Linked DNA regions of Homo sapiens: region 1 is linked to region 2. Evidence: fine-mapped expression QTL. A gene starts in region 2. The other region holds a variant in brackets. All regions are shown on one strand. Distances are between the middles of the regions.

Region 1 (5,368 bases), 440 kb after region 2:
TTGGATTGTGTGATTCATCAGCTGATATGGACAGAGGAGACGAGGGTGAGCACCAACATCGCTGAGCCATCTCTTCTGTCTTAGTTTTGGTCTGCTCAGAAGCTGAGCCTGAGACAAGGATTCAGGTGCAAGTAGTTTATTCAGGTGGTGAAGACAATACCAGTAGAGAAGTCGGGGGTGATGGAAGGAAGAGAAATGCAACCAGTAGAGTGTATTACCAACTCAGCCGCCGCCAAGGGCAGCCGGAGCTCCTGTCTGCTGGGCGACTGTATGCCGGTCTAGAAAGGCCAGAAGAGTTACTGCACTTGAGGGGCAAGGGATCTGGGATAAATATAACAACTTCCATGAGTCCTTCATTGAGGGCTGCCCACAGCATTTATTAACTCCTTGGCACATCTTGCTGTAGGCACAACCACATGGATTCCAGAAGCCAGAGAGTGACCTTGGGCAAAAAATAAGTTAAAAAAAAAAAAAAGCAAAGTTGATCATTGAAAGTTGAGCTAGCAGGAGCTGAATGGGCAGCCACCCAAAGAGAACTCCACACCCTCCTAAAACTTCCTACACAGGCTCACCCCTCAGAGCCAGCTGGTGTTGGCCAGGGCTTACCAACACAAGTGATATGACCCAATCCAACTCAACCTGCCTTCACACACAGCAGAATGTATCAGTTCATGTCCAAGCATTTGGATCTTCAGCTACAGCTACATGTAGATGCTCAAACGATGTCATCAGAATTCTTTTTTTAATTGCTAGCATTCTTCCTTGGTCCTGCGGGATGTAGAGTCATCATTGCTGTGAACACTGGCTGCTCCCAGGCTACTCCAATTTTTCCTTCTGGAATTCCTACCAAACAAGCGTTGGACATTCTCATTCTCTCCTTTATGTCTGTTCACCTGCCCTTCACAGTTTTATTTCTTGATATGCCTGTGGTTCTATTTGGGGTAACGTGGGTGGCTTTGTCTCCCACTGCAGTAATTCTCTCCTTGAACATGTCTCATCTGCTGTTCGAACCACCCATTGAGTCACTGATTTCAGTGACTGTGTTTTTCATTTCTAGAAATTCTACGTGGCTCTTTGCACCCCTTCCTGCTCTGCTTCCATTCGCTTCTTCTTCTTTTTTTTTTTTTTTTTTGAGACAGAGTCTTGCTCTGTCACCCCAGCTGGAGTGCAGTGGTGTGATCTTGGCTCACTGCAACCTCTTCCTCCCAGGTTCAAGCAATTCTCCTGCCTCAGCCTCCTGAGTAGCTAGGACTACAGGCACCCACCACCATGCTCTGCTAATTTTTGTATTTTTTGTAGAGATGGGGTTTCCTCATGTTGGCCAGGCTGGTCTTGAACTCCTGACCTCAGGTGATCCGCCCACCTCGGCCTCCCAAAGTGCTGGGATTACAGGCATAAGCCACCACATCTGGCCCCCATTTGCTGTTATTGAGACAATTTCAACTCCTTTTAATGTCTCTTTAATTTTTTAATTAAATTTTTAATTTCTTTTTAATTTTATTTCATAGACTATTTTTGTTGGTTCGTTTTATGTTATTTCATAAATAACATTTATTATGAAATTTATTTATTATGAAATGTATTATTATGAAATGTTATTATTTCATAAATAACATTATTTATTGTTTTATTTCATAGACTGTTGTTTTTTGTTGGTTTCCTTTAAGTTATAGCCTTTGGAGTCTTCTATGATCTCACATATCAGTCTGCTCACCTTCCTGTGTAAATGTTTAACACAACCACTCCCGGTGCAGCCTTGCCACCTACAGGTTGTAACTTTTCTTTCTTTGTATCATGAGCACCTCTTGAGCCCTGGTTGCTCGGCTTTGTTTTGTTCTGAAGGAGGTTGTATTTGCATTTGCACAGGTCCAACTTCAAGTGAGTTTCTTTTCTCCCAATTCGCATACCACAGAGGTAGTTATCCCACCCAAGTGTGGGCTTTTGGTTTTGAGTGGCGACATCTCCATCCAGTGCTCAGAGCGCACACAAGCTTTGCTGCTGTATCTCTGGCTCAGCAGGTAGGATTTTCCCATGCCCCGTCCATGGAGTGGGTGCTGCTACCTCCCTGGGCTGCAATGACAGTGTCCGGGATGGATGGGGACAAAGGTCCAGGAAGGCCA[C/T]GAGGTCAGACCTGGTTTGCTGTGAAAAAGGCAGGGAGGAAAGGAGGCAGCTACTTGACTTTTTCAGCAGAGGGTGAGTCATCATGGTCTTTGTGGGGCTGATAAAATGGGCTCTGGCAGTGGTTGTTCTAGGGGGTCCCTAGCACAGTGGTCAAGAGCTCAGCTCTAAAGCCACAGCAGTTCCAGCCCTGATCCTGCCTCTTCCTAACGATATGACTGGACATATTTCTTTTTTTTATTTTTTTAACTTTTATTTTCACTTCAGGGGTACCTGTGCAGGTTTGTCATGTAGCTACACTTGTGTCATGGGGGTTGGTTGTACAGATTATTTCATGACCCAGGTATTAAGCCTAGTACCCATTAGTTATTATTCTTGATCCTCTCCCTGGTCCCACCCTCCACCCTCCAATAGGCCCCAGTGTGTGCTGTTCCCCTCTATCTGTCCATGTGTTCTCATCATTTAGCTCCCACTTAGAAGTGAGAACATGTAGTGTTGGGTTTTCTGTTTCTGTGTCAGTTTGCTAAGAATAATGGCCTCTAGCTCCATCTGGTCCCTGCAAAGGATGGGATCTTGTTCTTTTTATGGCTGCATAGTATTCCACGGTGTGTGTGTACCACATTTTCTTTATCCAGTTTATCATTAATGGTCTGGAGAGTTTTTCCTAGATGAATGGAGGAGGCTGAAATATGCAATTCTAAGCACAAAGTGGAGAGCCTGTATCCACTGGGCACTTGCTGTGGATCAGGTGCCATTTAGGTTGACTTTGTGTCTTCGCTATTGTGACTCCATGTCTTTGCTATTGTGAATAGTGCTGCGATGAACATATGCGTGCATGTGAGCACAGTTCTTAACCTCTCTTTGGGCAGGAAGCATAACCCAACCTACTTTGTGGAAGAGGAGAAAATGCGTTCTGTAATAACTGCGAACAACACCTGACCCACAGCGAGTGCCCAGTGGATATGGACTGTCTGTTTTATGATTAGGATTGCACATTTCACCCTCCTCTATTCATGGGAGTTCCCACTCTTGGAAGCAGAATAGAAGTACCCATGGCTAAGTCAAGAATAAGGCCTTCTGTGGGATTATGTTTGCTGTGGGCACACAAAGGGGAGAGGATGTCATTATTGCCCTGGGGAGGAGGCGAGACAGCAGGAAACCTTGTGCTCATGAGAATCTGCCAGTCACATAGGCATGGGTGTGAGTGGCATTTCTAGGCCAGTAGCTTCCCCTTTTTTTGGAATATTATTCAGCCATAAAAAGAATGAAATATTGCCATTTGCAGCAACATGGATGATCCTGGAAGACATTACTTTGAGTAAAATAAGCCAGGCACATAAAGTCAATTTTTTTTTACCAGTCCCCACAATGGCAAATAGTTTTTACATAGCTGTTGGGTCACTGACAGAAGTATAGTGAGTCTGCAAAATAAACTCAGCCCCTTCACACTGGCCCTTTGCTTCCTCTTTCACTCTGCTACCCATGCAGAGCAAGGGCAGCACAATTGAACCGGGCCCACCAGCCAATGCCATGTACTGTGTCCCACACATCACTGCCGCCCAACTACAGCCAAGCAAAGCATCTGCAATGGCTCAACAGGGTCAACCTTAAAGGGCAAAATGCTCTTGTTTTCTTGTTTCTCAGGCAAAGCTTAATTCACTGGGGGCAGTGCAGGGAGAAGAGGGGAGGTTCCTTTCTGATGTCATTGGTTCTGACAGTGTTTCCTGCCCATCAACCTTTGTCATCAGGCTGGATACAGACAACAGCTGTATCCATTCATCATACTTAGGCCACTAATCACAGAGTGTGTGACAAAATGACCAGGGCCTGCCCTAGAAGCCAGTCATTGTCTGTGAACATGCACCGGCTGACTGATTCAAGCAATACCTGTGTGGATAAAGCCACCCGGAGCCTCATCTCACTTAGGGATTTTTGTTTTGCCATTTGTTTGTTCTGGGTAAGGATTATGAGGGCACTGTTAGTCACATCCCCATTTGTTCTTGTTTAAATTAAGGTGGTTTCTCTGCCCCTGATAGAAAACCTGTATGATTTCTCCCCAGATGCATGAGCTACTGGGTCTGGATTTGAGGTCCTGCTCCCTGTTTCATTGGGCGTCCTCCTAGGAGGGGGTTTCTAAGGGAAAAGGCATCCCCCAGGTGGTCTTCTAACTGCCTGTGTCCCTGCAGGAGGCTGTATTCAGCACGTGGCTGCAGTTCAGTGATGGCTCTGTGACGCCCCTGGACATCTACGACACCAAGGACTTCTCCCTGGCAGCCACCTCCCAGGACGAGGCTGTCGTGTCAGTCCCCCAGCCCCGCTCTCCCAGGTGGCCCGTTGTGGTGGCCGAAGGGGAAGGCCAGGGCCCACTGATCCGAGTGGACATGACGATCGCCGAGGCCTGCCAGAAATCTAAACGCAAGAGCATCCTGGCTGTGGGCGTCGGCAACGTCAGGGTCAAGTTCGGACAGAACGATGCTGACTCCAGCCCCGGCGGGGACTATGAGGAAGATGAGATCAAGAACCACGCCAGCGACCGCCGGCAGAAGGGCCAGCACCATGAGCGCACAGGCCAAGATGGGCACCTCTATGGCAGCTCTCCCGTGGAGCGTGAGGAAGGGGCTCTCCGAAGAGCCACTACCACGGCCAGGTCCCTGCTGGACAACAAAGTGGTGAAGAACAGTCGGGCAGACGGGGGCAGGCTGGCAGGAGAGGGGCAGCTGCAGAACATCCCCATTGACTTCACCAACTTCCCTGCCCACGTGGACCTCCCCAAGGCCGGGAGTGGGCTGGAGGAAAACGACCTGGTGCAGACTCCGCGGGGCCTGAGTGATCTGGAGATAGGGATGTACGCCCTCCTGGGGGTGTTCTGCCTGGCCATCCTCGTCTTCCTGATCAACTGCGCCACCTTTGCCCTGAAGTACAGGCACAAGCAAGTGCCCCTGGAAGGTCAGGCCTCCATGACCCACTCTCACGACTGGGTGTGGCTTGGCAATGAGGCCGAACTCCTGGAGAGCATGGGGGATGCGCCGCCGCCCCAGGACGAGCACACCACCATCATAGACCGCGGACCGGGGGCCTGCGAGGAGAGCAACCATCTCCTGCTCAATGGTGGCTCCCACAAGCACGTGCAGAGCCAGATTCACAGGTCAGCCGACTCCGGGGGGCGGCAGGGCAGAGAACAGAAGCAGGACCCCCTGCACTCGCCCACCTCCAAGAGGAAGAAGGTGAAATTTACCACCTTTACCACCAT
Region 2 (5,368 bases):
GCAGCAGGTTTCCTCTTTCCAATCATTCTCCTCTCCCATAAATTATGTTAAGTGCTTCCATGTGCCCACAGTCCTTAAGGAATTCTGCAACAGCCTTTGAGGAGATTAGAAGCCTCTGATGTTCCTTATGAAATTCAGAAAACCATCTGGAAGTAATCTAAGTTAAGGAATTAATGATTTGGGGGTTAAATGATACATGACTTAAAAAAAATAAATACAGAAAACTTTATTAGCCCATGAACCTCAATTTTTGTGGATTTACCTATGAAAGAGAAATTGACTATATCATCTGTTTTATTTGTTTGTTCAGTTTTGTGTGCATGTTTGTTTGACTGCTCTTGAGAGGGACACGCAATAGATTAAATGGAGTCCTAAAGGAAGGTTTGCAGAGAAGCTTTCATTTGCTGGGTCTCCTGAAGGCTCTCACAGGGGATGCCCGGAGGCATCATAGTCTCAAGGGGCATCTGTGATTCAGGATCACCTGAAGACAGTGGCTGCCTTTGGGGTGCTGTGCAGTGAGCTTATCTGATTGAGAATCCTTTCCCCACTCCAACCCCATGTTGAATTAGTATTTATTTTGCTGTGGCTTGTTTGGTAGCCCCTGGTTTTGATTATTTGCATCACAGAGATGTAGTCCAGGACCTGACTTGTCTTTGCAGTAGGGACAGCAATGTTCTGTGCCAAAAGGAAAGAAATGATGTGGAAAGAAGGTACATTATGAGGCTGCATAGAACAGGGGAGTGGAGGGCACTTCTTTGGGTTTTTATTTTTTGTCCCTGTTATCCAATAGGGAGGAGAGAGGATAAGGCAGATTCCCATCCTCAGTTACAAACAATGGGACATGTGTATTTCTCCCTCATGCTGGGAACATTTAAATGAAAAAAAAATTATTCCCCGGTGATGTTCAGGCTCAAAGCACTGAGAATAAAACGTACCTTCCGTTTTAGGAGCCCAAATCTACTTTACAACTGCCCCCTGCCCCCAAGGTCAGGTCTACACTAGCTGAATGTACTGAAGAATTGGGCGATTATCAGCATAATCCACTTTAAAAATCAAGTCTCTGCTATCCAGGCCTATGAGAATCAAGCTTTTACCGTTCCCTTTGGGGCCTGGATAGTTTTCAAGCTGCCTTCTCCTCACATCATGTGAGTAGAGCCGGCCAAGAAAACCAGGGAGACATCTCCCCCCAGCCTGGCCCAGACTTCCGGGCCCCACCCCAGGAGAGAGCCTCCCACTCTGGCCAGTGCCCTGCAAAGCCTTCGCCCCACCCCGCCCCAATTTCTCCTTATGCCTGGCTCATTCCTTAGGGGCTGAGTTGGGAGATAAGACTTGGGGTTGCAGTTGCTGGGGATCATTCGTTTACATTTCTTTTCTTTCAATCAAGGACTTCTTTTTTTCTTTTGAAATTCTTTCCTGCACTGATGGTGAGAAAAGACCCCTCAGGCTTCCTTTTGATGTTGGACCGAGCCAGCCCACGGTGAGAGGGGATGCTGAGCCCGTGGTGAGGAGCTCAGGACAGGAGGGGACGTCCAGAGACCTCCGAACCCATGGCCCTTCATTCCCAGTCACAAGGGGGGAGTCGGGGTCCCGCCCTCAAACTGCTCAGACCACGCGTGGCAGAAAGAGCAGAGCATGAGCATCAGGAACCGCACAGGGAAGCCGCTGAGATCACCTGGGATCACCACCATGAGGGAGGCCAGCCCTGGAGAAATCAGAGGGAAAAGATAGAGAGAACGAAGTCGGGGGGGGGGGGGGGAGGGCGGATCTTCCTTGTCTGAGTCTGCAGAGAAATTGCCTATTGCAGGAGCAAGTCTAGAGAGGGGCTATTCTCCACCCACTGAAAAGATAATAAAACACATGCTATGGGCGGCGGGGAGATGATTGGGGAGTGGAAGCCCCACAGACATGCAGTGAAAAATGATCCTTTCTTCCCCTCTGCGTTCTCGTCCCCTTCCCAGAGACACCGCTGTGATCTCGTGCCTCGCCCCCTCCGCACACGCACAGGTGCACACCCGCATCTGTCTTGAGCCCGCACCCCGCCTTCACGCTCCGCTGCGCGCTGCTTTTCCGCGCTCAGTGATCCAGTTAGGAGCTCTCCCCGCAGCAGCTGCGCGGGACTTTGCATTCCAGATGTCCCCAGCCCTCCAGGCTAAAGCAGCGGCCACCTGAAGTTGAGGAATGGGGCGTGACGACCACCAGGTCCCGCAGTGACCACGGGAGGGTGGGGAGAAGGAGTCCAGCTCCGCCTTGAGCGTCGGGTCCCTGGGCAGGACCCTCCGGGCCACGGGCCGCTGTCCGTTGGGCACCCGGGCAGGAGTCTGCGAACGCTGAGTTTCTCTGGAAAGGCGCGGACCCCCGGAGGAGCCGTCCCAGCCGCCTGGGGAGACGCCCCCTCCTCTCCCGGTCTTCTTTCCCGGGCACACCCTCCCTAGCCCGGGCGGGGGGGTTCTCCATCTGCCGCCCCTCCCGGCGGGCAGGCGAACTCTCTCCTACCGCACCCTCAATCTGTCCGCGGTCGCGGGGCTCGGCGGGGGCGGGGCCCGGGCGGGGGCGGGGGCGGGGCCGGGGGCGGGGCGGGCCGGCGGCTGCGGAGGCTGCGGAGGCTGCGGGAGAAAAGTTGTCCCGGCCGGAGCGCGAGCAGCGGCGGAGCCGGAGCCGCCAGAGCCAGAGCCGGAGCTGCGGCGGCGTGGACCCGGCAGGGGCGGGCCTCGGACAGCAGAGACGCAGCGGGCCCGGCCGACCGGGCTGCGGGAGTGGCCCCGGGCATGGGGCGGCCGGCGGGGGCCGCGGGCGGGCGCTGCGCTTCGGGCTGGCGGCGGGCTGCGTGAGCGGCCGGGACGCAGGATGCGCTCCGAGGGTGCGGCCCCCGGGCCGGCGGCGCCGCTGTGCGGGGCGCTGAGCCTGCTGCTGGGCGCGCTGCTGGGCAAAGGTAAGGCCGGGGCGGGTGCCTGGCGCGCCGACGCATGCGAACTTCCCGGTTCCGGGGGAGCTCGGGGTGAGGGCAGCCGAAGCGAGGGGTGCGGCGGGGGCCTCGGCGGGGGCTCGGATCCCATCAACAGCGCCTCTGCGGGTGCCGAGCCGCCCCTAATCCAGAAGGGCGCTCCCAGCTGGGCGCCGGGATCCGGGCAAGTTAGGCTGGTCCCGAGTCCCGAATCTCCCACCCCGGACCCCCCAGACCCAGAGCTGCCCCGCGGATGAGGAGGGGGCGTGGCTGAGGGACACGGTGTTTGTTCCCCATCCCTGAGTTCCGTGCGGACCTGCCCCAGCCCCAGCACAGTCACCCTGTGGAACTGGCATCCAGGAGAGGTGCTCCGCTCTGTGCGCTCCTTCCTCCCGGCTGTGTGCTCCCTGTCCACAGCTCCCCATCCACAGCTTCGGCACTGTGGGGCTGGTGCTCCAGGAGGGAAGGCCCGGTTCTTTGCATCCCCTTTCCGCAACCGCTAGGGTCTCTGTGCGGGCCCTAGAGGAACGCTCACTCATCGCGCAGCTCACCAGGGACCCCAGCTTGGCAGAAACCAGGGGCTCTCTGCGGGTTCTCTCAAATGAGTCCTTTGCGGTGGGGGAGCGCGGATGGGGAGGTGGGTGCGTCCCTCGCGACGGGAACTACCTCACCAGCGGTCCTGTCCGGGGCTCCTTCACCTCAGTGTCCTCTTCTCTACAATGGGAGTGACGGCCCTGCTTTGGGTTGGAGGAATTTAAAGGAGTTAACGTATGGCGCCCGCAGGGCTCACGAAAGGTAGCCGTGTGGTTTTTCCGACCTTTTTTATTATGTGCGTGTGCGGCCGAGTGGCCGCGCGGATGCGGCGGCGGGAAGGGCGGGGAGAGGCGGTCTCCAGCCCCAGGAGCCGCGGGGCAGGCGGGGAGCAAGGCCTAGGCTCTGCCAGGGCAGCAGCTGCCCGAGTCCCGGGGCGCGCCCAGGGCGTAGAAAAAGGAGAGCGTCGCTTTCCTGCTCCCCGCGCCCTGGCGAAGGTCTCGGGTTCATTTGGTTAAACGGAGGTGCGCACATGGGTGCCCTGAGCCTTCGCGCGGCGCCGCGGGTCCAGTATCGGCCCCAGGCTCTGAGCAGAGAACACTCAAAGCCACCCTTCTCCCGCCTAATGCTCTGAGGCTGAGCTAGAAATGCGTTCAGAGAGACAAGTTGTCAATGGAGGTTTAAAAGTAGCGTTTGCTTTTCAAAAGTCATTCTGCACCGCCTGAAAATCCAGAAAAATCTACTTTCCTTGAGGCTGCGCTTTCCCAGATACACCAACCAGACAAGTTTGCTATGTTTTATATAAGTGTTCCTTTCTTCCAAGAGCTCCAGGTAGGGAGGAGGGTGGGGTGAGAGAGGGGGGGGAAGAAGGAGTGAGAGAAGAGGGAAAGAGAGGGTGGGGCGAGAGAGGGGGGAAAGGGGGTGAGAGACGAGGGAAAGGGGGGGCAAGTCGGGGGTGGAGGAGTAGGAGAGGGGGGCACTTTTCTATTTTATTTGAAAGAGTCAACAGTCACGATCTGGTGCCTGAATTCTGCTGTTAATTAGCTCTAGGTTCCAGCGTTTCTAGGATTCAGTTTTCCTAGATGCAAAGTGGCCATTGAAGAATTCCCTTCCCAACCTACCTCCCAGCAGTTTTTTGTTGATAAAATGACTGAATGGGTAGTAAAGCACTTTGCAGAGGAAGGCGGTGCTAATTGAGCAGGGCGTGACCGACCTCCTCCGGGTTTTCACCCCTTGCCCTTGAGAGAATTTAACCAGGCGAACTGGATGTTCCCTTTAAAGCAAGTGTGGACTGTTCTTCATTAAGGCTCACATTCCGTGTGTGTGTGTGTGTGTGTGTGTGTGTGTATCCAGAGGATTTTACTTTTGATTACGAGAGTGGCTGTTACAGATGTCCATGTGTTCAGTGCTGGGGGCAGTGATTTGGCTGGAAAGGCAACTGGGACTGGATTTGAAGCTGATATTTGCACAACAAGGGAAAGTGCTGAAAACTAGGGACGTAGCGAAGCCCCACCCCTATCCCAAACCGCCTCTGCCCTCTAGCTAAGTGCAACCTTGATTTGATGGGGCTTTCTTTCCCTGCTTTTTGCTTTACAAAGTTCACCACGTGATTTGGGGGTGCATAAGGGCCTGCAACTTATCATCTGCAAAATACATTTTCCGTTTGTTTCTCATGATCAAAAGCAGCAGTTCATTCCCCCCTCGGATTCCTCCACACGTAAAGCGTTTGCACCGTAAGATATCTTCTAGAGAGGAAAGTTTGCTGACCTTGTTTACATTTCTGCTGTCTTTAAAAAAAAAAAGCCATCTCTGTCTCTTCCTGCACACGGATTTAAGTGCTGATTTCTGGAATCCTTGAAACCACTGATTAATTTTTAATACCAATTGTCTGTTTAT

Evidence for each region. PIP is the estimated chance that this variant, and not a neighbour inherited with it, causes the effect.
Region 1: its variant is fine-mapped to the expression of TMEM132C in whole blood (TOPMed, PIP 0.97).

What each region holds. Positions count from the first base shown.
Region 1 is chr12:128,700,786-128,706,153 of GRCh38, forward strand. TMEM132C (transmembrane protein 132C) reads left to right here. Exons shown (of 9, transcript NM_001136103.3): 9 at 4,305-5,368. Among named protein-coding and RNA genes, the nearest start is that of SLC15A4, 120 kb to the right of the region's middle. The variant C/T (reference allele first, on the strand shown) is at 2,121.
Region 2 is chr12:128,264,559-128,269,926 of GRCh38, forward strand. TMEM132C (transmembrane protein 132C) reads left to right here and starts at 2,612. Exons shown (of 9, transcript NM_001136103.3): 1 at 2,612-2,929. The coding sequence starts at 2,845. It overlaps LOC107987176 (a long non-coding RNA gene), which reads right to left and starts at 2,474. Exons shown (of 2, transcript XR_001749176.1): 1 at 2,013-2,474. RefSeq lists enhancers at 1,758-2,279, 2,815-3,653.